Regions from separate parts of the Homo sapiens genome. Here region 1 is linked to region 2. Evidence: fine-mapped expression QTL. A gene starts in region 2. The other region holds a variant in brackets. All regions are shown on one strand. Distances are between the middles of the regions. Region 1 overlaps PSMD13 (proteasome 26S subunit, non-ATPase 13). Region 2 holds the start of NLRP6 (NLR family pyrin domain containing 6).

Region 1 (11,252 bases), 20 kb after region 2:
CTCCTGCCTCAGCCTCCTGAGTAGCTGGGATTACAGGTGCCTGCCACCACACCCAGCTAATTTTGTATTTTAAGTAGAGACGGGGTTTCTCCATGTTGGTCAGGCTGGTCTTGAACTCCCGACCTCAGGTGATCCACCCGCCTTGGCCTCTCAAAGTGCTGGGATTACAGGCGTGAGCTACCGCTCCCTGACAAATCTGTCACTTTTTTTTTTTTAAATGAGGTAGAGTTTCGCTCTGTCGCCCAGGCTGGAGTGCAGTGGCGTGATCTGGGCTCACAGCAAGCTCTGCCTCCCGGGTTCACACCATTCTCCTGCCTCAGCCTCCCAAATAGCTGGGACTACAGGCACCTGCCACCACGCCTGGCTAATTTTTTGTATTTTTAGTAGAGACGGGGTTTCACCATGTTAGCCAGGATGGTCTCAATCTCCTGACCTCGTGATCTGCCCGCCTCGGCCTCCCAAAGTGCTGGGATTACAGGCGTGAGCCACCACATCCTGACAAATCTGCTGCTTTTTAATTTGCTTTATTTGTTTAATAACTGGTATGTTTCGGACACCTTTCCATGTTGGTGTATATAAATATACTTCACTATTTTTGTCTTCATCATAGTTGCCTGTGGTTGAGGTGTACCACAAGTTATTAATCAGTGCCCTATTGATGAAAATTGGATCAGTTTCATTTCCCTCCTCTTATAAAGAGTGCTCTAGGAAACAGCCTGATGCCTGGGTTGGAGGAAGGCCTCCATGGTCAGTGCTCGAGGGAACAGCCTGATGCCTGGGTTGGAGGAAGGCTTGTCATGGCCTGATCAGGAGGTTGTGCATGTCACTCATAGCCACAGTCACATGGCCGACCCTGACAGCAGGAAAGGATAGGACATGCAGTCTAGCTATTTGTCCAGGAAGACAGGAACAGAAATTTTGGAGATCAGCTAGCAATCTCTGCTACGTTACTCATGCATATTTTCCATTGTGTGTGTGTGTGTGTGTGTTTTTTTTTTTGAGGTGGAGTTTCGCTCTTGTTGCCCAGGCTGGAGTGCAGTGGCACAATCTCTGCTCACCGCAACCTCCGCCTCCCGGGTTCAAGTGATTCTCCTGCCTCAGCCTCCCGAGTAGCTGGAATTACAGGCATGCACCTCCACGCCTGACTAATTTTTTGTATTTTTAGTAGAGATGGGGTTTCTCCATGTTGGTCAGGCTGATCTCGAACTCCGACCTCAGGTGATCTGCCTGCCTTGGCCTCTCAAAGTGCTGGGATTACAGACATGAACCACTGCACCTGGCCTCCAATGTGTTGTATTTTGCTAATTTGCATGGTACGCATGCACACACATACACACACACACCCCCACATCTGCCGTGTGGGAAACTACTTTATCAGCTAGAGTACTGTGCTTATGTGTACTTCCTTTGCTCTTAGTCTTAACAGACTTCACTCATTTCCAAAGTTACCAAGTCAGTGCCTTTCTCATCATTCCCTTCAGTGAGGTTGTTTCTGCATTTGTAACACAGTTAGATTATTTTGTCACATGCTGCATTCCATCATGGGATTCCCTGATATTCTAAATGATATTTTAACATTTGCATACATTAATGTTTACTCTTTGTACTATAAAGCTCTATGAATTTTTAATTTTTATTATTTTGAGAGAGGATCTTGCTCTGTTGTCCAGGTTGGAGTGCAGTGGCCCAATAATGTCTCACTGCAGCTTCGGCCTCCAGGCTCAAGCCATCCTCCCACCTCAGCTTCCTGAGTAGCTGGGACCACACGTGTGCACCACCATGCCTGGCTAATGTTTTTATTTTTTGTGGAGACAGGGGTCTCACTATGTTACCCAGGCTGGTCTCTAACTCCTGGGCTTAAGCAGTCCTGCCCTGGCCTCCCAAAGTGCTGGGATGACAGGCATGAGCTACTGTGCTTGGCCCTCCATGAATCTTGACAGGTGTATAGTGTCATGTAGCTACCTAGTGTCCGGCTCTTGGACTCTTTTCTTTTTTTTCTTTCTCTCTCCCTTCCTTGCTTCCTTCCTTTTCTTTTTTTTTCTTTTCTCTCTTTCTTTTTCTTTCTTTCTTTTCTTTCTCTTTTTCTTTCTTCTTTCTCTTTCTTCTTTCTTGCTTTCTTTCTCTCTTCTTGCTTTCTTTCTCTCTTCTTGTTTCTTTTTTTTTTCTTTAACATAAGTTAATGCTTTTATTTTTTATTTTTTGAGAGAGGATCTCACTGTGTCACCCAGGCTAGAGTGCACTGGCATGATTATGGCTCACTGCAGCTTTGAACTCCTGGGCTCAAGCACTCCTTCCATCTCAGCCTCCCAAGTAGCTAGGACTATAGGCGCTCTATATAGGACTAGGAGCCACCATGCCTGGCTAATTTTTAAATTTTTTGTAGAGGCAGGGTCTCAGTCTCACTATGTTGCTGAGGCAGGTCTCAGACTCCTGGCCTCAAGTGATCCACTTGCCTCAGCCTTCCAAAGTGCTGGGATTACAGGTGTGAGCCACCATGCCCAGCCCAGATCTTGGTTTCTAATACCATTCTCCAGCAGAAGGAACCAGGCCTATTGGCTTATTCTATGTTCACTTATTCCAGGACAGGGGCAGAAAATATATGAGTCTGGAGCATTTTGTGGTACCAGAAACTAAGAAAGTGTTCAAAACAAGCAAATTAAAAAGCTCCACAATTTTGAGGATATGCTAAAGGAACACAGGGCTGAAAGAAAGGAACCCAATACCCAGAGCTGGGACAATCTGAGCAACAAAATTAACCAGTGTTAATTATAACCTAAATATAAAATAAATACGCTTGAGTCCATACTGATATAAATAAATGAATCAGTAATAATAAGTGGGGAAAAGAGACAAGCCTTTAATGCAAAAGAATGACAAATAAAGCCTGTAGAGACCCCACCCCCAAAGAGGTGGAGTGTGACTGGCCATCCTTAGGTGGGGCTGTGCATAGTGACTTCCTCCCAAAGGGAACAGTATGGGAAGGGGAGTGAAAAGAGTCACTTTGCAATGAGGAAAGCTGACAGACGGTCTCACCCAGGTGGCCGAGGCCAACATCAGGAGTGAGAAGTTCTTGGTATGATGTGATGAGAAGGGCGCTGTCCCTCTGTGGTCCTCCTTCTCAAGCCCCAGAGCCCTAATCTAATCATGAGAAAAGCAGCAGCCGAACCTCAATAGAAGGGTGGGGTGTTCTACAATAAACCTGACCAGTTACCTTCAAGGTCACCGAAAAACAAGGAGAATGAGGAGCCGCCCCAGCAGACAGGAGCTCAGGAGATGTGGAGACTGAATGTAAAATGGTGTTGATCCTGGAACAGGAAATGAGGGAAAGTGTGAGGAAATCCGAATCGAGTATGGACTTCATGAAGTTCGTAACTAATGTATCAATATTGGTTCATTAATTGTGACAAATGTATTATACATATTGTATTAGCATTCTCCAGAGAAACAGAACCAACAGGATGTGTGTGCGTGCGTGTGTGTGTGTGCGCGTGCGTGTGTGTGTGTACCCACCCATCCCCAACACACATATATGTGGAGAGAGATCTATTTTGAGGAACTGTTTATGTGATTGTAGAGGCTTGGTAAGCCCGGAATCTGATAGAGGAGCCCAGGTGGCTGGAGGCCCCGAGGAAAGCTGATGCTGTGGCGGAGCCCGAGGACCATCTGGAGGTGGAATTCCTTCTTCCTCCTCAGGAGAGGTCCGTCTTTGTTCTCCTAAGATCTTCAACTGATTGGATGAAGCCCACCACATCATGGAGGGTCTTCTGCGTTTCTCAAAGTTCACCAATTTAAAGGTTAGTATTTCATCCAAAAAACACCTTTGCAGAAATATCCAGAATAATGTTTGACCAAACGTGGGCACCACGGCCCAGTCAAGCTGACACACAGCACCATCGAAACCGTCAGCGCTGGGCAATGCTGAGACTGTCGACTGACACCAGAGTCCCGAACGGGCAGGTTCCATGTGAAGAGGGCTTGGGTCAAAGCTGAGTTCCCGACGAGGGGTGTGCACAGGGGTGGGGTGGAGGGCAGAGGGCCACACCCTCCACAGGATCTCTTCCCATGAATCCCAAAGTTTCAGTAAATTCTACTAAATCTACAAGGTACTTAGTGGAAATGTGTTTTTTTAGATGAAAGGAAGGGGCCAAGTCTTAGTATCTGGCTTAATTTTTTGGAAGTGGTCATTCAGTTTTGAAGAAAATAGTGTGAAGTATCAAAGTTTTTATGTGACATGAAGATGGTATTCAAGCTTTTTTTTTTTTTTGAGATGGAGTCTTGCTCTGTCGCACAGGCTGGAGTGCAATGGCACAATCTCAGCTCACTGCAATCTCCGCCTCCCGGGTTCAAGCAATTCTCCTGTCTCAGCCTCCCGAGTAGCTAGGACTACAGGCGTTTGCCACCATGCCCAGCAAATTTTTGTATTTTTAGTAGAGACGGGGTTTTGCCACGTTGTCCAGGATGGTCTTGAACTCCTGACCTCAGGTGATCCACCTACCTTGGCCTCCCAAAGTGCTGAGATTACAGGTGTGAGCCACCGCGACCGGCTGGTTCTCAAACTTGGCTGTGTATCATACTCACCTGGGGGGTTGTTGTAACAGATTATAGGCCCACTCCACTTTCCGATTCGTTTCCAACAAGCCAGGTGATGCTGATGCTGTTGGTCCAGGAACCACACTTTAAGAACCACTATTTTACGTGAAGAAATAGGTTTCTAATGCAATAAAAAAGGAGCATGCAAATGTTTTCATGCATGTGTGCTCTTTCTGGGTCTCTGATTCGAAGAGCTCCATGGAAGAGGGCTGTGCCCCCGTCTGTGCCTCCTCCAGCAGCTTCTGTGGTTCCAAGTCTGGACACAGGGTGGTGCCATGTGCCCACAGGTGTCCACCGGACTTTCCAGGTGGTCCTGCAGGCCGAGGTGGCCTTGCAGCTTTGTGAGAGAGGGTGTGCGTGGTGGCTGGTCTCCCTCCCGCCTCCCAGGTGCGTTAGGGGTATGTCCAGGGCAAGCTTGATAGGTATGTGCTGAGTGGCTGAAGAAGGTGAGGGTGAAGATTCAGGTAACAGGACTACTTTTGTCCATCCACGGCCTTGAGCGCACCTTCCGATGCTGCCCCTGTCCAGGATGAGCCAGGATGGGCCAGGACGGGCCAGGATGAGCCAAGATGAGCCAGGATGGGCCAGGACGAGCCAGGATGAGCCAGGACGGGCCAGGATGAGCCAAGATGAGCCAGGATGGGCCAGGATGAGCCAGGATGGGCCAGGATGGGCCAGGATGGGCCAGGATGAGCCAAGATGAGCCAGGATGAGCCAGGATGGGCCAGGATGAGTCTGGAACCCTGAGCCTGCAACCCTGAATGCTCTTCAAGTCTCAGTTTCCCCAGCTGTTACGTGGGGCCTTAATCTCCATCCTGCAGCCCCACTTGGCCACCTTCTCTTTCTCTCTGGGTCACATCATTTTCTTTCTATTAAAGGGCAGACCTGGGGGTGGCGGGGAAGAGGGTCCAGGCCTCAGGATGATGACAGGAGAGGCCATCTGGGGCAGCCTTGCTGTGGGTGGGGGACTCAGGATCTTTAACCACAGGGTTTGGTTTGAACAAGTGGTTCAAACTGGGGACTAAAAACAAGGCTAGGATAAAGACCAAAGCTCACTTCTGCTTTTGTGGGGCCCCAGAAGTAGAAGCTGCGTGAGTGTGAAGTGAGGAGGACAGGTTTGTGCTTGGAAAGGTCAGAAAGGTCGGAAGACCGGTGAGTGGGCAGGTGGGAAGAGGTTGAAGGCTGTGGACGGCGTGGCCATCTGGGCTTGAGGGAGGCCGACAAAACCTCTCTCTCCTGGAGGGCAGTGTTTCCTCCTGGCATCGCTGCTCCCACCCCTGCCAGCTCCCTCCTCTCAGCCTTCATCGGGGGCATCACCCACCCAAGGCTGGGCTGGCTGGGGGCTTGTTTGGAAGCCTAACGTCCTGAAGCACAGTGGGCCTCTCCACTGCCCACCCACACACGCCACCTGCACCCCCCACTCCACTGAAGCCCAAAAAGGGCAGAGGTGGAGGCCTCCCTCGGGGGCAAGCCTGGGTGGTGGTGCAGCTAGTTCTTATCTGTAAAAGACAAAACACCATAGCCTGGGAGACTGATCCTTTGAACACGCACTCAGGTCCACAGCCTTATCCAGAACTGGACCCCAAAGCTATAATTAAAGGTTCAGGCGGAAGGGATTATTACAGAGGAGGGGCAGAGCCCCCCACTGCCTGAGGCTGGTATCAGGAGCCCAGCACTGCTGGAGATAACATTCAGGACACCCTTCTTCCTCTGGCCTCACAGGACTTGGCTCCTGCTTGAGAAACCAAGTCAGATGAAGACTGGCCAGGGACCCGGAAGGTGGGGTGGAAAGCCTAGGAAGTAGTCTCACATTTAGGACAAATGTGGTTTCTGGGGAAGAACAAAAGTAAAATCATGTTCCTAGTGAAATTTGCTCGTATCACCAATTTACCATTTCAAAACAAACAGATAGGGGCGTGATTGTCCATAGTGAGGGTGATGACCACAGCCAAGCCTGGAGGTACAGACAATGACCATGGATAAATCTGGGGGCCTAGGTGGGGTCAGATGTCCTACTGCTTCTACTGGCTCCTGGGCTTGGACTCAGCTGTGGCCTTTTTCATTGTCAGTGATAATACTGTGGGTCATTCTGAAGGAGAAGTGTAATCCCCACAGTTGTCTCTCATGTCTGACTTGGCTTTGTATCCTTCAAATCTAGCCCAGTGCCCAGCATACAATAGAAACTCCATCCATCCTTATAACAACTCCTCCAATCATCCATCCACCCACCCACCTACCCACCCATCCATCCACCCACCCATCCATCCATCCACCCATCCACTCATCCACCCATTGACTCATCCATCCACCCACCGACCCATGTATCCATCCATCCGTCCGTCCGTCCGTCCGTCCGTCCGTCCGTCCGTCC[GTCCGTCCA/A]TGCATCTATCCATCCACTTATCCACTCATCTATCCATCCACCCATCCACACATCCATCCATTATGGATCCCTGCATCCATCCACCCATCCACTCCTCCCACCCACCCATCTGCCCATCCATCCATCCATCCGTGCATCTGTCCGTCCACCTATTCATAAACTCATCCATCCACCCACCATCCATCCATCCATCCATCCATCCATCCATCCATCCATCCATCCATGCATCCATGCATCCATCCACTCATCTGTTGTCCATCCACTCACCCATCCACCCATCCATTCATCCATCCATATATCCATATGCCCATCTGTCCATCCATCCATGTAACATTGACTGAAAAAGTCTGCTAAACCAGACACTGCTCCAGGCTCCAAAGATTCAGTGGTGAACACAACGGAGTCTCTGCCCTCATGGGACTTACATTCCAGCTTCAAAAACAGAGAGTAAACAAGATATATCTAAGGAGATGTCATTTGAGCAAAGCCTAAATGATCTAAAGAAACAAGTAAAAACCTGAGGGAAAGGCTGTCCAGACAAAGGCGCCAGTGAAGGGTGGGAGTGCCCTGTGTCTGGGATGTGTTTGGATTATAATCCTGAAAGACACACTCCTGAGTCTTGAAATCCTGAAAGATCAAAATATCTAAAGTGTAAAATCTCTAATATTTAAAATTCCAAAAATCACAATCACAGGAATCATAGAAATTTTTAAAAAGTAGCGCCACTTAGAAAATGAATTTGAATGTATTCTCCAAGGAAAGCCATGTCCTAAAAGAAAAAAAAAACAGCTATTCATTGTGATGCAAGACTTCAGAATATAGTTAATGGGGTCGTGGAAGTTTGCCAGCTCTTACAGAATATCTCTGCATAGTTGCCCATAATCTACTGTAATATGACTTACACAGAAAATTCGACATATATGGCTTTTTCAAGTTGAATTTTCTGTATAGTTTTTTTAGCTTTTTTCATCATCATAAATTGTCAGCATTATTTTTTTACAGTTCACTATGCTCTCATTTTATCCTTGCATCATTTCAATACTGAAGATATAAATTAGAACACTTATACAGTGTTCTAATTTGTTTTAGGCATTTTTTGCAAAACTGACTCCACAGAAGTGCATTACCACAATGTTGTCTGTGTGTGTAGGTAAAAATGGGATATTTCCTCAATAAATGAAGAGATGTCCTTTTTGTACATCTGCATTTGTGAAAAATTTCTCTAGATCTTGGTTTTTTTGGTGACTGGCTATGTGGTGGTGAACTGTTGCGGTTCTAGATTGAGCCTGTTAGAAGGCGTAGGTTGTTCATCCTGGCTTTTCGGAAGACTGCAGTTATGAACCTGGGCGCACGCAATTCCCACCCGAGCGGTAGGTGTTCATGCATTTCCCCTCTCAACACATTTCTTTACGAATACAGCTCATCTGTGCATAACTGTCATTGGTATGACTGTTTACACTTGCAGAAACATGGATATTATTATTGTCTATTTTATTGTGTGAAGTGGCCTATGATGTGTTCTGTCATATGTCATGTTTTTATGTTTCTCAAATAAATCCCCTTTAAAAATGTAAATAGATGGCCAGGCGTGGTGGCTCATGCCTGTAACCCCAGCACTTTGGGAGGCTGAGGCGGGCGGATCACCTGAGGTCAGGAGTTTGAGACCAGCCTGACCAACATGGAGAAACCCCATCTCTACTAAAAATACAAAATTAGCCAGGTGTGGTGGCAGGCGCCTGTAATCCCAGCTACTCAGAGGGCTGAGGCAGAATTGTTTGAACCCAGGAGGTAGAGGTTGCAGTGAGCGGAGATGGTGCCATTGCACTCCAGCCTGGGCAACAAGAGTGAAACTCCGTCTCAAAAATAAAAAAATGAAAAAAAAGTAAATAAATATCTTTTAAATAATTTTAAAATTATTTTTTCCAGAAATATATTTTCAGAATTTTGATTTTTCGGGATTTCAGCATGCAGAATTGTGTCTCTCTGGGCTGTGATCAGCTCATGTCTGGGATGAGGCAGGAGCCTTGGTGGGGTGCAGGGAGAGCAGATGAGGGTAGGAGCAGGACCAGCAAGGCAGGCAGTGGTCAGAGCACTCAGGCCTTGGGGGTGAGTGAAGCCTGTTGGAGGATGCTGAGCAGCGGCAGCAACAAGACCTGATTGTTCTGGAAGACTGTCTGGGCTGCTGTGTGGAGGAGCGGTTATGGAGGACAGGTTTGAGGCTGGACTTAGGGAGGGTGGGGAGTCAGCGGGCTCGATGTACACATGAGTGTCTGAGGGAAATGGAGGCTCACACTAAGACATTTGGCCTGAGCAGCTGAGAGGGGCTGCGGAAGGTTGAAGGGTGCACCACAGGGCCTTGGGAACTTGACAGTGAGGTGGGTATAAAGGCTAGTGGTCAATAGATCCCAGCAATTGTGACTGACGAGGAACAGCTGGGGTGTCAGGCCATCTGGACCAGGGCCAAACGAGGTCTGGAGAGGGTGGGTGGAAAGACCGAGAGGGGTCTGGGGCCATGAGGTCAGGCGAGGCCTGGACGAGGTGGAAAAAACCAGGAGCTCAGACACCAGCAACCAAAGAGGAAAAGGCTGGAGAAGATGCCGGACAACTGTTCTTTGCCAGCCTAGCAGACTTGTGGGTGCTTTCCTCCAACAGGAGCAGGCCGTGGGGCTCTCACATTCATCAGCTTCCTGGTTCCTGGAGGCTGGGTCTCACCCGACCTGGAGAGCTGCAAGAGCTCCATGCTGTCACTGCAGGCCCAGGACTGAAAGATCACATTAAACTGTCCTTCCACCTAATGTTCACTCTGTGATTCTTTGTGTACGTGCACCTCCACTCCCAGACGGGGAACCTCAAGGTGGTTTCCTTTACATGCCCAGTCCCAGGGATGGCTCATGTCCGCACTGGGGCACACCAGGTCACAGATGCTGGTGGCTATTTGAATGATGAGTGGTGACAAGGATGTGGATGGATGCCTGTGTCGGGGCAGGTACCTGAGAGGGCTGGAGAAGGGAGTGGATACCCCTAGGTCTCTCTTGACTAACAATAAAGATAGGACCAGCGTCTTCGTTAGTCCTTGGTGCTGGATTCTGCCCGTCTACTGTATGTGCAGGGAGGAGAAGGGCCAAGGCTACCCCCACCGTGTCTTCCCAAGGTTCCAACTCATGCTTTTTAACCTCCAGGCACAGGCTTGGCCTGGAAGCTAAGCCCAAGAAAACAGAGCCACAAGAAGAACAAAGCAGAGGGGTTTATTATAGGAACATTCTCAAACCGCAACGGAAAAGATGTCCGTACAGGTGGATGGGGATGGAGATCCACCTCGGAGTACACAGACTTCAGGGGGCCTCCTGCCTGGCACGTTCTTTCTCTCCCGTATCACCTAAGACCCTGAGACCCCCACCCTCTGCAGGAGAGACCCACAAAGAAGCCTCCTCCCTGTGGCCTGGCTCCCATCAGGGACAGTCCTGTTTTTAGAGCAAGAACAGTCTGTACTTCAGACAGGATCCCAACCCCCACCCAAATTCAATGTCGACCGTCTGAGCAGCCAGCTTCATTGGCTGCAAACGCCTCTCTCAGGTGAGTCAAAGGAGACACGACGGGGAACCAGGGGGCCCTAGGTGAGGATGTCATGGGCCTGGTGCTCCACCAGCATCTCCATGCTCTTCACATCCGTGCACCAGAACTCCAGGCGGTCCTTCATTCCCTTGATCTGAAATGGAAATCCGGACACAAGGGACGTTAAGACACGCAGGAGACACAGGCCGAGCGGCCGGCACAGCACCTGATGGGGTGACTCTACATCTCCAGCTAACTCTCTAGGGCAGCTCTAGTAAAAAGGACCTCTGAGCTGGGGGAGTGGGACGGGACTTGCCGGGTTAATTCTTTTCACAGGAACGTTAGAAAAAACTTGCATGAAAGAAAGCAGACAAGGACAGAGGAAATCCACAGGATCGCATTTCCAGCAAATGTAAGAGCGACGTGAGCTCAAATCACAGAACCAGGAACGTATCTGATCAGAGCTCCTATCTTAAGATTAAAAGGCACCGTCAGCACAACCAGTGCCATTGTCATCATAAGCTTTTAAATGCAGGGTTCAAACCCTAGGCTTGCATTAAATTAGGCTCTTAGAAAAACCCAACAGCAGTATTTCCTTCTCCAAAACCTCTTGTCTAATAATGCTGTCTTCCCAAATGGCTTCCATCCAAATGAAACTAAGACGGTATAGACACAACCCCTCAAAATCCACAGAGGTGAATAATGGGTTTCAAACACATCACCTGTTGCA
Region 2 (11,252 bases):
TGCTCTGTGTGGGCAGAGCCTGCCATCTCCAGCACCCACAGGCCTCAGGCTCTGGTCTGACCCCTCAGCCTTCTTTCCTAGGTCATACTTCCGTCTCTGCCCAGGGCATCCTGCTCTCAGCCCGCTCCGTGGGAAGAGCTGGGGGTGTGGCCACTCACGTGAGGCTGCTCAGATGGCACAGTGGGTCAGTCATTGCCTGAAAGAGTGGATGAAGAAGGGAGGCTGGCAGTTGTTTTGTGGTGCCTTGAGAACTGCTGGGAGAGAGAGGAAGGTGAAGCCCACCCTGCTCCTCACAGTGCCTGCCGGAAAGGACTCCTGTCTATCTGTAGTCCTGGGGTCTCAGAGCTGCCCCTCCTCCTCACCTCCTTGCTGAGCCACCCCCTTCACACTCCCCCAACCAAACCCAGAGCAAAACCACTCATCTGTGGCCCAGGCATCATCCCACTGGGGTGTCTGAGTGAGGTCAGTGGGACGGTATCACCCACATCCTCTACATGGGTCTTTGGGTCCCCAGGCCCAGCCCCTGCCAACACCGTGACATTCATCCTCTCAACAGATGCCAAGCCCCTGGGCAGGGGCTGAATTGGAGCTATATTCAAAGGAACTCTGGCAAAAGCCTTGCCCTGGAGGAGCCGAGGGTCTGGTGGAGGTGTGGGGCAGATGTCACAGCAGGGTGGTCGAAAGGGTACTTCTGGAGCCAGTTGGGTCCCCAGCCAGCTGGGGGAGCCAGGGCAGACTTGCAGGACAGGCAGCAAACAGAATATTCTAGGTGGAGGGAAGGGCAAGTGCAGAGGCTCTGGACAGAGGGCATCGTGTGTTCCAGAGCTTATTGTCAGAAAGTAAAATGGGAAGAAGGGCTGGGCCAGAGCTGTAGGGCCATACTAGGAAGTTTTCATAGGTTGTGGGTGGCTGACGGTGGGCATGGTGAGGACACCCTGGGGAAGAAGATAGGAATTCAGTGGTTGCCTTGCAAGGAGGTGGTCAAAGCCTCCCCATCTGGGGAGCCAGGGTCTGGTCTGGAGGTGCGCCCCATGCCAGATGGACACTGAGGTGCACAGGTTTGCACCGGCACACACACCTCACACACAAGAGAGTATCTCTGCCCTGGAGACGCACCTGCCGCCACCCAGGCTGGCCTGGAGCCGCTTCCCCAGGCTCTTCTTCTTCTTCTCCTGCGCAGCAACCAATCTGCAGCTGATCAGCCGCAGTGCCTGTCCAGCAGGGCAGCACCTCACGCAGTAGCTCAGAACAGCCACGTCCATGCGGCAGAAGCGCACTCGCTGCAGCGCCAGCTCCGGGAACCGGCACAGGGCTTGGCGCACAAACGCGTCCTCCTGCGTCTCGTACAGGCAGTACAGCAACTCCAGTGGGTAGTTGGGCTCCTCTCCCTCCTCCTCCTCCTCTGGCTCTTCGGTGTCCTCGAGCCCTTTGGCCCCCTCGGTCACCTCTGGTGCCACTCCGGGGCAGCCCTGTCCCTGTCCCTGCACCCACCGCAGGGCCTCCTGCTTCACACGCTCTGAAACCATGCAGCCGAAGTGGCGCTCGATGTCGCGCATCCGCTCCGCGCTCAGCAGTCCGAAGAGGAAGCGCGTGGTGAGCACCAAGTGGCTGTGCGGCTGGGCGTCCCCACGCAGGAGTGTCCCAACGCCGCCAGCCGCGGTCCTGGGCACCCCGCCGTCCTCCAGCAGGTAGGACAGTGCCGCGAGGAACTCCTGGAAGCTCTGGTCGATGAACTGGTAGGTGACCTCTGTCTCCAGCACGCCCGGCAGCTCCTTTTTGCTGAGAAACAGCGTCTGCACTTTGGAGCCACGAAGCTCCAGTTGCTCCAGTTCCTTCTCGGCAAACTGCGCCCTGCGTCCGAGGACGCCCTCGCGGGCCAGGCGGCACAGATTGCGCAGGTCGCCCTGCAACCGGGGCCCGTCGGCTACCGGAGCCGAGCTCAGAACGCTGGTGATGAAAAGCAGGTACACTGACGTGGTGGTCTTGGACGTGCGCGACAGGTCCCGACCGAGCTCCAGCTGCTGGCGCAGCACGGTGCACACGATCCAGCACACGAAGGGCACGAAGCACAGCGCGAACAGCGTCTCGTTCTCCTTCACGAAGCGGTAGGCGCGCTCGGCCCTCCTCTCATCCCGGAAATACTTGTAGAAATACTTCTTCTTGTCCTTGTCGGAGAAGCCGCGCACCTCGGCGCACTGCGGGGAACACAGGCGGCCCTGCAGCCTCCCGGGGGCGGCGGCGCGCGTGGTCACCAGCAGGAGGGCCGTGGGCAGCAGCGCCTTGCTCAGCAGCCCGCCTAGCACCCGCGCGCCGCTCGCCGCCTCGAAGGGGTCTGTGCAGGGCGCGGCCTCGGGGCCCCCCAGCGCCGGCAGCTCGTCCGCGCCGTCCAGGATGAAGAGCAGCCGCTGCGGCTGGGCCAGCATCTGCGGCACCGGCGCGCCGCGGTCGGGGCACTGGTCCAGGATCAGGTCAGCCAGGCTGCGCGTGCCCGGCCTCTCCAGCAGCTCGCCGCAGGGCATGAAGAAGGCGAAGTCCACCTGGCCCTGGTACAGCTTGCCCGCCGCCCAGTCGTACAGGATCTTTTTGGCCGCCATGGTCTTGCCGATGCCCGCCGGGCCCTGCAGCACCACGGTCAGCGGCCGCCGGCCCTCCTCGTCGCGGCGGAAGAGGCGGTTGAAAGTGTGCGTGTCCGAGCGCCGCGCGCGCCCCGGCTCAGGCTCTTCCGCGGGCCCCATCGCCTCCTCCGGGGCGGCGCTCTCGGGCGCGATGAGCAGCTTGGTGAAGCGCTTGGTGATCTTCACGGAGCGGGCGTTCCTCTCCTTCACCCGAGCGTGCAGCTGCAGCACGTGCTCCCGGTACTTCTTCTTGTACTCTGGGCGCAGCGGGAGACAGCGCGGGGACAAGGGTCGGAGGTGGGGCAGGCTGCGCCCTCCGGGAGCCCACGCCCTCCCCGGCCCTGCTCAGGCCTCAGTTTCCTCTACGGGACCACAGCCCACGCCCCTGGCGGCCCTCCCACCCCGGTCCTCCCCGGGACCCTCCAAGTGGGGTTGGGGACACTCGTGCCCCCCCAGCGAGAGACCCACCGGACACGGAGAGCAGCGTCCCGGAGCCGAGCCCGAGCCCTGGAAGGGAAACTGGGGTGAGGTTCCGCCGAGGGCGGGAACAGGGGAAGGCGCCACGGGGGTCCGAGTCACCCTGAGGAGCACGCAGGGTCCTACCCCTGGGGCCCGCGAATTTGTGGATAAAACGCGCGGGGGCCGGGGACCGCGCCGGGGCTTCTCCGGGAAGCGGGAAGGAGGGCAGCCCAGCCTCTGCCCAGACAGGAGGGACCTCCCGCGCAGAACTCACGCTGCAGCCGCCGCTCCTGGAGCTGCGCCGCCACGTCGCGCGCGTCCGCCCTCTTGAGGGTCTTGCGGGCCACCTCCAGGGCAGGCTCCGGGCCGTAGAACTGGGCCAGCTGCTCCGCGAGGTCCACGGCGTCCGCGCGCTCCAGCCGCCCCCACGGGATGCTGCGTCCGTCCGGGCCCACGTCGCGCAGCTTGTGGCGGAAGCGCTTCAGCTGCTCTTGGCTCAGTTCCTCCAGCGCAGCCAGGAGCAGCTCGCGGGCCACCGCGAGGCGCGGCCCCGTGCTGGAGGCGGGCGGGCGCGGGTCATCGGGGAGCGGCCCTCGGGTGACCCCCGCCCGCCCCCGACTCTGGCGCCGGAGAACCCACCGCGGGCAGGGCCTCAGGGAGTCCCGGGCCAAGCATCGTCTGGATCCATGGGGTGGCGGGAGGGGGCAACGGGGAGTGACCCCAGACTTTTCCCTCCCCCGTCCCCGGACCCGGGTCGGGGCGTCTTGGTGTTCTTCGCCCTCTGAGGGTGAAGTGGGCACTGGCCGCCGCTGATCTGAGCTCTGGGGGGCACCTTCCTCCCCTGCACCTCCCTTTCTGCTTCTGTCCTTCCACACCCCAGGACAGGTCACATGCCCCGAGGGAGGTATTTCCAAGGAACCCTGAGCTCTCTTTCCTCGCTTTCCTTCTTTTCCCTCTCTTCCCGATCCCGGAGCAGAACTGGCCTCTTTGGCAGCAGACACTGCCAGGCCCAGGCTGTATTCCTGGGCCCCCACCCCTGCCACACTTTGGTGGGGCCCAGCTTGGGGCCTTGCACCAGGGCCTGAATCTGAGCCCCTGGTGGGGAACAGACTCCACAAATGCCCTCTGTGGGGAGGCAGTGCTTGGCTCCTGAGCCTGGGAGTGAGGGTGGGGGAAGGATGTGGACAAGGGTGGAGAGCCTGAGGAAGTCAGCGGGTGAGGTGGAGGCCCCAGAGGGCTGAGACCAGCCGGTTCCCAGTGACCACCCTGGGGCCAGCACTCACCTGGAGCAGGGGGCCTCTGGCTGGTCCATGGGGTCTCTTCCTCCCTGGGTCTAGCACTCCGGGGCAGAGGTGGGGATCAGAGAGGTGATTCCTTCACAGGCTGAGCTGGAGCCAAGTCTTAGAGGTTGTCCAGCCCGGTCCATTCCCCGGGTCCACACACCGCAGCTCAGCTGGCACGAGATGCTGTTGGGCACCGTGGCACACGCAGAGCATTGCCCTTTAAGGGCTCCGTTTGGTGACCTTTGATTTTCTTACTCCTTTATCCCATTAATGTTCCCCAAGAACCCCTGGGTGTGGCATCGGGGCATGGCTGTGAGCAGGCAGCTTCAGAGCAAGGTGGGTTGTGTGAAGGAGGTGGCTGGCTCAGAGCCAGGCCTTCAGCTGAGGCCTGGGGAGAGGTTAGACTCTGAAGGCAGGGGTGAGGAAAGACTTCCAGGTAGAGGGAACAGGGGGGACAGCCAGCAGCACGCACCATATATGGGAGGGAAGGCAGTCTCCAGGGAGACGCCGGGCAGGGGTCTGCACTGCAGCCTCCCCACCCGACCTGAACAGCTGGCGGGCAGAGGCTGGACGTCAGGGGTGTTCGAGACCCCTGGGACCAAATGTGAGAGTGTGTGGAACGGGGGGGTTAATATGTGGAAATGAGAGGTGCTGGGTAAAATAAGGCTGAGACCTACTGGGCTGCATTCCCAGGAGGGTAGACATTCTAAGTCACAGGATGAGACAGGAGGTTGACACAAGATACAGGTCATAAAGGCCTTGCTGATAATGGTGTAAAGAAGCTGGCCCAAAACCACCAGAACCAAGATGGCAATGAGAGTGACCTCTGGTCATCCTCACAGCTCATTACTCTAGTTACAGTACATTAGCACACTAAAAGACACTCCCACCAACACGATGACAGTTTATAAATGCCATGGCAAAGTCAGGAAGTTACCCTATATGGTCTAAAAGGGGAGGAACCCTCAGTTCTGAGAATTGCCCACCACTTTCCTGGAAAACTCATGAATAATCCACTCCTCGTTTAGCATATAATCAAGAAATAACCATAAAAATGGGCAACCAGCAGCCTTTGGGGCTGCTCTGCCTATAGAATAGCCATTCTTTTATTCCTTTACTTTCTCAATAAACTTGCTCTCACTTTACTCTTTTTTTTTTTTTTTTTTTTTTCATGGAGTCTCGTTCTGTCGCCAGGCGGAGTGCAGTGGCACGATCTCGGCTCACTTCAAACTCCGCCTCCTGGGTTCAAGCAATTCTCCTGCCTCAGCCTCCTGAGTAGCTGGAATTACAGGCATGCACCACCATGCCTGGCTAATTTTTGTATTTTTAGTAGAGACGGGGTTTCACCATGTTGGTCAGGCTGGCCTTGAACTCTTGACCTTGTGATCTGCCTGCCTTGGACCTCCCAAAGTGCTGGGATTACTGGTGTGAGCGACCATGCCTGGCACTTTACTCTTTATGGATTTGACTCAAATTCTTTCTTGCATGAGATCCAAGAACCATGATGTCTGGATCAAGACCTCTTTCTGATAACAGTTTGGCTGTGTGTCCCCACCCAAATCTCATGTTGAATTGTAATTCCCAATGTTGGGGGAGAGACCTGGTGGCAGGTGATTGGATCATGAAGGTGGATTTCGTCCTTGCTGTTCTTGTAATAGTGAGTAAGTTCTCATGAGATCTGGTTGTTTGAAAGTGTGTAGCATGTCCCACTTTGCTCTCTCTGTCCTTTTGGCCACATGAATATTTGCCTGCTTCCCCTTTGCTTTCTGCCATGATTGTAAGTTTCCTGAGGCCTCCCCAGAAGCAAAAGTCTGTACAGCCCACAGAACCAGGAGCTAGTTAAACCTCTTTTCTTTATAAATTACCCTGTCTCAGGTATGTCTTTACAGCAATGTGAGAATAGACTAAGACAAATTATAACAAGTAAAGAGATTGAATTACTAATTACAGGGAAAAAAAACTTTCCCACAAAGAAAAGCTCTCAAGGGAATGCTTCCCAACTCATTCTCTGAGGCCTGTGACACTGATACCAAAACCAGGCAAACTCATCAGAAGAAAACTGTAAACCAATATCCTTCATGAATACAGGCATGAAAAATCCTTAACAAACTACTTCAGAAACAGAATCTATTAGCATATAAAAACAATTACAAACCATGACTAAGTGTGTTTTCTCTAAGGAGTGCAAGGTTGGTTTAACATCCAAAAATCAATTAATGTAACATATCATAGTAATACTTAAGAGGACAAAAACTGCTTGATCATCTCAATAGAGACAGAAAGAATAGTCTACATTTTCCAACACCTCTTCATGGTTAAAAACACTAAGCAAACTGGGAAGAATGGAAGGAGCTTCCCAATCAGAAAATCCCCCAATATTTGGAATAAACAATACACTTGCAAATAACACATGGGTCAAAAAACAAGTCAGAGGAATTAAAAATACGTTTAACCAAACTGGGCATAGTCCTAGCTACAGGACAGGCTTAAGTGGGAGGATTGCTAGAGTTCAAGACCATCTTTGGCAGGGTAATAAGACTTCTGTCTTTTAAAAGATAAAAAAGGCCAGGAAAGAGAGTAGGGGAACGGAGATGAAGGAGAAAATAATATATGTGTAAATATATTTATTAGCACTGAGCTATACACTTAAAATGGTAAAGATGACAAATAAAATTTTGTATTTTTATATAAATTAATATTTTTATTAAAAAATAGAGACTGAGTCTTGCTATATTGCCCAGGCTGTTCTCAAACTTTTGGCCTCCAGCCACTGCCCTCACACCTGTAATCCAAGCACTTTAGGAGGCCGAGGCAGGAGGATTGCTTGAGCTCAGGAGTTCAAGCTACAGTGAGCTATGATAATGCCACTGCACTCCAACCCAGGCAACAGAGCCAGATCCTGACTCAAAACAAAAACAAAAACAAGACATTGAATCTACAATTAATGACCTTCCAAACCAAAAAGCATTAGACCCAGATGGTTTTACTGGTGAATTATATTGAAAACATAATGAAGAAATAACAATTTCCTATAATCTTTTCCAGAAAATAGAGGCAGTAGGAACACTTCCTAACTCATTCAATGAAGGTTGTAATACCTTAATACCAAAACTAGACAAAGACATTACAAGCAAGGAAAAATAACACACTAATATTTCTCAGGAATGTAGATATAAAAATCCTCTACAAAAAGTCAGCAACCCAAACCTAACATGTGTAAAATGAATGATACATCACAACCAAGTGGGATTTACTCCAGACATTCAAGGCTGGTTTAACACTCACATGTAAATTAATGTAATTCATCACATCAATGGGCTAAAGAAGAAAAAACATGATCATATCAATAGATAAAGGAAAAGCATTTGACAAAACCCAACACCTATTTATGATAACAACTCTAGCAAGGCAGGAATAGAGTGGAACTTCCTCAACTTGATAGAGAACATCTACAAAAAAACCTACAGCTAATATCATACTTAATGTTGAGAAGCTGAATGCTTTCTCTTTAAGACTGGGAACAGGACAAGGGTGCCCCCTCTCACCACTCCTATTCAGCATTGTGCTGGAAGTCTTAGCCTTGGCAATAAGACCAGAAAAGGAGAAGAGGGTATGCAAATTGGGAAGGAAGAAATGAACTATTTTTGCTTGCACAGGACATGATTGTCTGTGTAGAAAATTCCAAAGAACAAAACATTCCTGGAACTAATAAGTGATTATAGCAAGGTTGCAGGTAGCAGGGGTAATAAGCAAAAGTCACTTGCTTGCCTAGCAACGAACAGCTGGAATTTGAAAATTAAAACATAATTATCATTTATATTAGCACCAAAAACCTGACTTAGGTATAAATCTCACAAAATATGTACATGATAAACTGCAAATCTCTGATGAAAGAAATCAAAGCTCTAAATAAATATTCCATGTTCATGGATGGGAAGACTCAATATTATTAGGATGCCAATTCTTCCCAAATCGATCTACAGATTCAATGTAATAAAAATCAAAACCATAGCAAATTATTTTGTAGATATCAAAAAACTGATTGTATGGTGGCTCACATTTGTAATCTCAGCACTTTGGGAGGCTGAGGTAGGAGGATGGTTTGAGGCCAAGAATTTGAGACCAGACTGGACAATATAATGAGACCCCATCTCTACAAAAATATAAAAATTTAACTGGGTGTGCCAGTGCATGCCTGTAACCCCAGCTACTTGGGAGGCTGAGGTGGGAGAATTGCTTGAGCCCTAGAGATTGAGGCTGTTGTAGGCCAAGGTCATGCTATTGCACTCCAGCCTGGGTGACAGCAAGACCCTTCCTCTAAAAACAAAACAAAACAAACAGAACAAAACAAAAAAAAACCTGTAAGATTTATATGGAAATGCAAAAGACTCAGAATAACCAACATGATACTGAAGAAGAACAAAGTCAGAGGACTGACGCTGCTCGGTTCAAGACTTACTGTAAAGCTACAGCAATCAGCATAGTGATATTGGCAAAAGACTGTACAGATAAATCAGTGGAACAGAATACAGAGCCCAGAATTGGCACACACAAATATAGTCAAGTGATCTGTGAAAAAGGAGCAAAGCCAATTCAAAGGAAAAGGATAGTCTTTTCAACAAATGATGCTGGAACAATTGGATAGTCTCATGAAAAACAAATAAAAAAATCTAAACACAGACTTTAAATGTTTCACAAAATTTAACTCAAATTATATCATAGACCCAAATGTTAAGTGCAAAACAACAAAACTTTTAGAAGATAGACCAAAGCATGGTGCATAAAAGAAACAATTGATAAGTGGGCTTCATTAAAATGTACAACTTCTGCCCTGGAATAGATAGTATTAAGAGAATGAGGAGACAAGCCACACACTGGGATAAAATATTTGCAAAACACATATTTGATAAAGGACTGTTATCCAAAATATACAAAGAATTATCTTTCTTTCTTTTTTCTTTGTTTTTTTCTTTTCTTTCTTTCTTTTTTTTTTTTTTAGAGACAAGGTCTTACTCTGTCGCCCAGGCTAGAGTGCAGTGGTGCGATCTTAGCTCACTGCAACCTCAAACTCCTGGGCTCAAGGGATCCTTCCCACTCAGCCTTCCAAGTAGCTAGAACTATAGGCATGCATCAACACATCTGGTTAATTTTTATTTATTTATTTAGAGACAAGGTCTCCCTATGTTGCCCAGGCTAGGGATGCTGTCCTTCTGCTCAATGGTGGGATGATATTTCAGTTCGAGGTGCAACAGTTACCAAATTTAGGTCCAAAATCCCTGAGAATCCTCAATGGAACCCATATAAATCTAAACAGCCTCATGACCCAGGGGCCACAGCTGCTTCCAGAAATCTTCAGTTCGGTTCAAAAGACAATGGCGATCTGTGTTCCGCTTCCGCAAAGGGACAGTACCAGGGTCTACCCATGTCACAGAGCACAGTTTTCCTTGAAGAAACCCTTTAGGCTTGTACCCTTCTGCACAGAGTCCTACACTCCGGACAGCAGCTGAAAATTCCCCCTCTGTTCCTGTCACTCATCGACAGCCCTTTGGTACTACACTGTCATCCGCTTCCTCTGTCCTTCTCCCCTGGGCCCCCAACATTCTGACCCCCCACACCTCTCTCCTCGATGCTAGCCCTCTCTCTCCTCTGCGCTCCTCTTGGGGGCGGCGCCGAAGACCCCGCCTCATCAACTCATCAACCTCTCCTTCTGGGACGATTCACCCCAGAGCCTTTGGGGGTCCCAAATGGAACCAAAAGTGGCAGGACCTGCTTGCTGCCAACCCGAGGTCCATCTTCCCCTCTTCTTACCGACAGAACCCTGTGTGTGTGGATCAGCAAAGTGCTTCCCCATAAAACTTTGCAGAAGGTGACCTTGGGACACAGTCTGGGCAATGAGGGGAAAGGGAGCCTGCTGGGTGGGCTTGGGTGGTGGGTGGAGCTGCCACGGCCGTTGGCTCTTGGCCTCCCTCCGTCTTTGTCCTCTTGGACATGGACACAAAACTTGGAGGTCCACGAGCAATGCCCAGGCCCAGGAGCCAGAGGAGATGACTCTGGCAGCTGGGAGGCCACCTCGGGGCTTTGTTCTGGGAGAACGACTCTCCTGTGGGTTTCGGTTTCATGCGGCCCAAGGCCTTCGTAACTCGTACACCTTGGACCTGTCTCCAAGGCCGCAGGTGGAAGGGCAACGTGCACTTGGCCCCACTTCTGACGCCTCCTTCCACAGCAATGCTCTCTGTGGCCCAATCTTCCACGAAAGCAAACTGTCCTCCAAGGCAGGTGCTGGGCGTCCAGTGCTCCTTAAGGAAGGTCTTTCCCTTCCCCACAGAGACCCAGAGAGAAAGCGCCTCCCCCATGAAGCTGCTGGTCAAATGCTCGTTCCATTGGGCACTCACTGTACCAGGAAACCTGCTAGAGCAGCCGAAGAAAGAAAGGTTCAAACTGGTCTCAAAAGTAAGACGGCCTCAACACGGAAGGGAACCTGGACACAGCTGCAACATGGACGGCCCTGAGGACATTGAATAAGCCAGACACAGAAGGACAAATGCTGTGTGTTAGCACTTACCTGAGGCCCCTAGAGCCTCCGACTCACAGAGAGAGTAGAACAGCAGGGGCCAGGGCTGTGGGAAGGGGATGGGAAATGGGTGTTTAATGGGGAGAGAGTCTCAGTTTGGGAAGATGAGAAAGCTCTGGAGAGGGACGATGGTGATGGGTGAACGATGTGAATGTACTTCATGCACACTTAGCAATGGTTAAAATGGTATATTTTATGTTATATAAATTTTACCACAATTTAAAAAATAAGACAAAAAAAGCCAGTGTATCCATAATCTGATTAATTATTAGCTCAAGTGTTTTCCCGAGATAGGTCAGGAAATCAAAGCCTCTGCTTGTTTCT

The links. PIP is the estimated chance that this variant, and not a neighbour inherited with it, causes the effect.
Region 1: its variant is fine-mapped to the expression of NLRP6 in CD4 T cells (BLUEPRINT, PIP 0.95).

Annotation. Positions count from the first base shown.
Region 1 is chr11:251,929-263,180 of GRCh38, reverse strand. PSMD13 (proteasome 26S subunit, non-ATPase 13) reads right to left here. Exons shown (of 13, transcript NM_002817.4): 12 at 11,245-11,252; 13 at 10,197-10,676. The coding sequence ends at 10,581. It also overlaps the pseudogene COX8BP. Among named protein-coding and RNA genes, the nearest start is that of PSMD13, 21 kb to the right of the region's middle. RefSeq lists a silencer at 4,817-4,896 and an enhancer at 5,113-5,613. The variant GTCCGTCCA/A (reference allele first, on the strand shown) is at 6,962.
Region 2 is chr11:271,704-282,955 of GRCh38, reverse strand. It overlaps NLRP6 (NLR family pyrin domain containing 6), which reads right to left and starts at 4,549. Exons shown (of 8, transcript NM_001276700.2): 1 at 4,358-4,549; 2 at 3,349-3,629; 3 at 3,084-3,122; 4 at 1,117-2,872; 5 at 159-251. The coding sequence starts at 4,386. RefSeq lists a silencer at 1,506-1,595 and enhancers at 2,549-2,618, 2,699-3,249.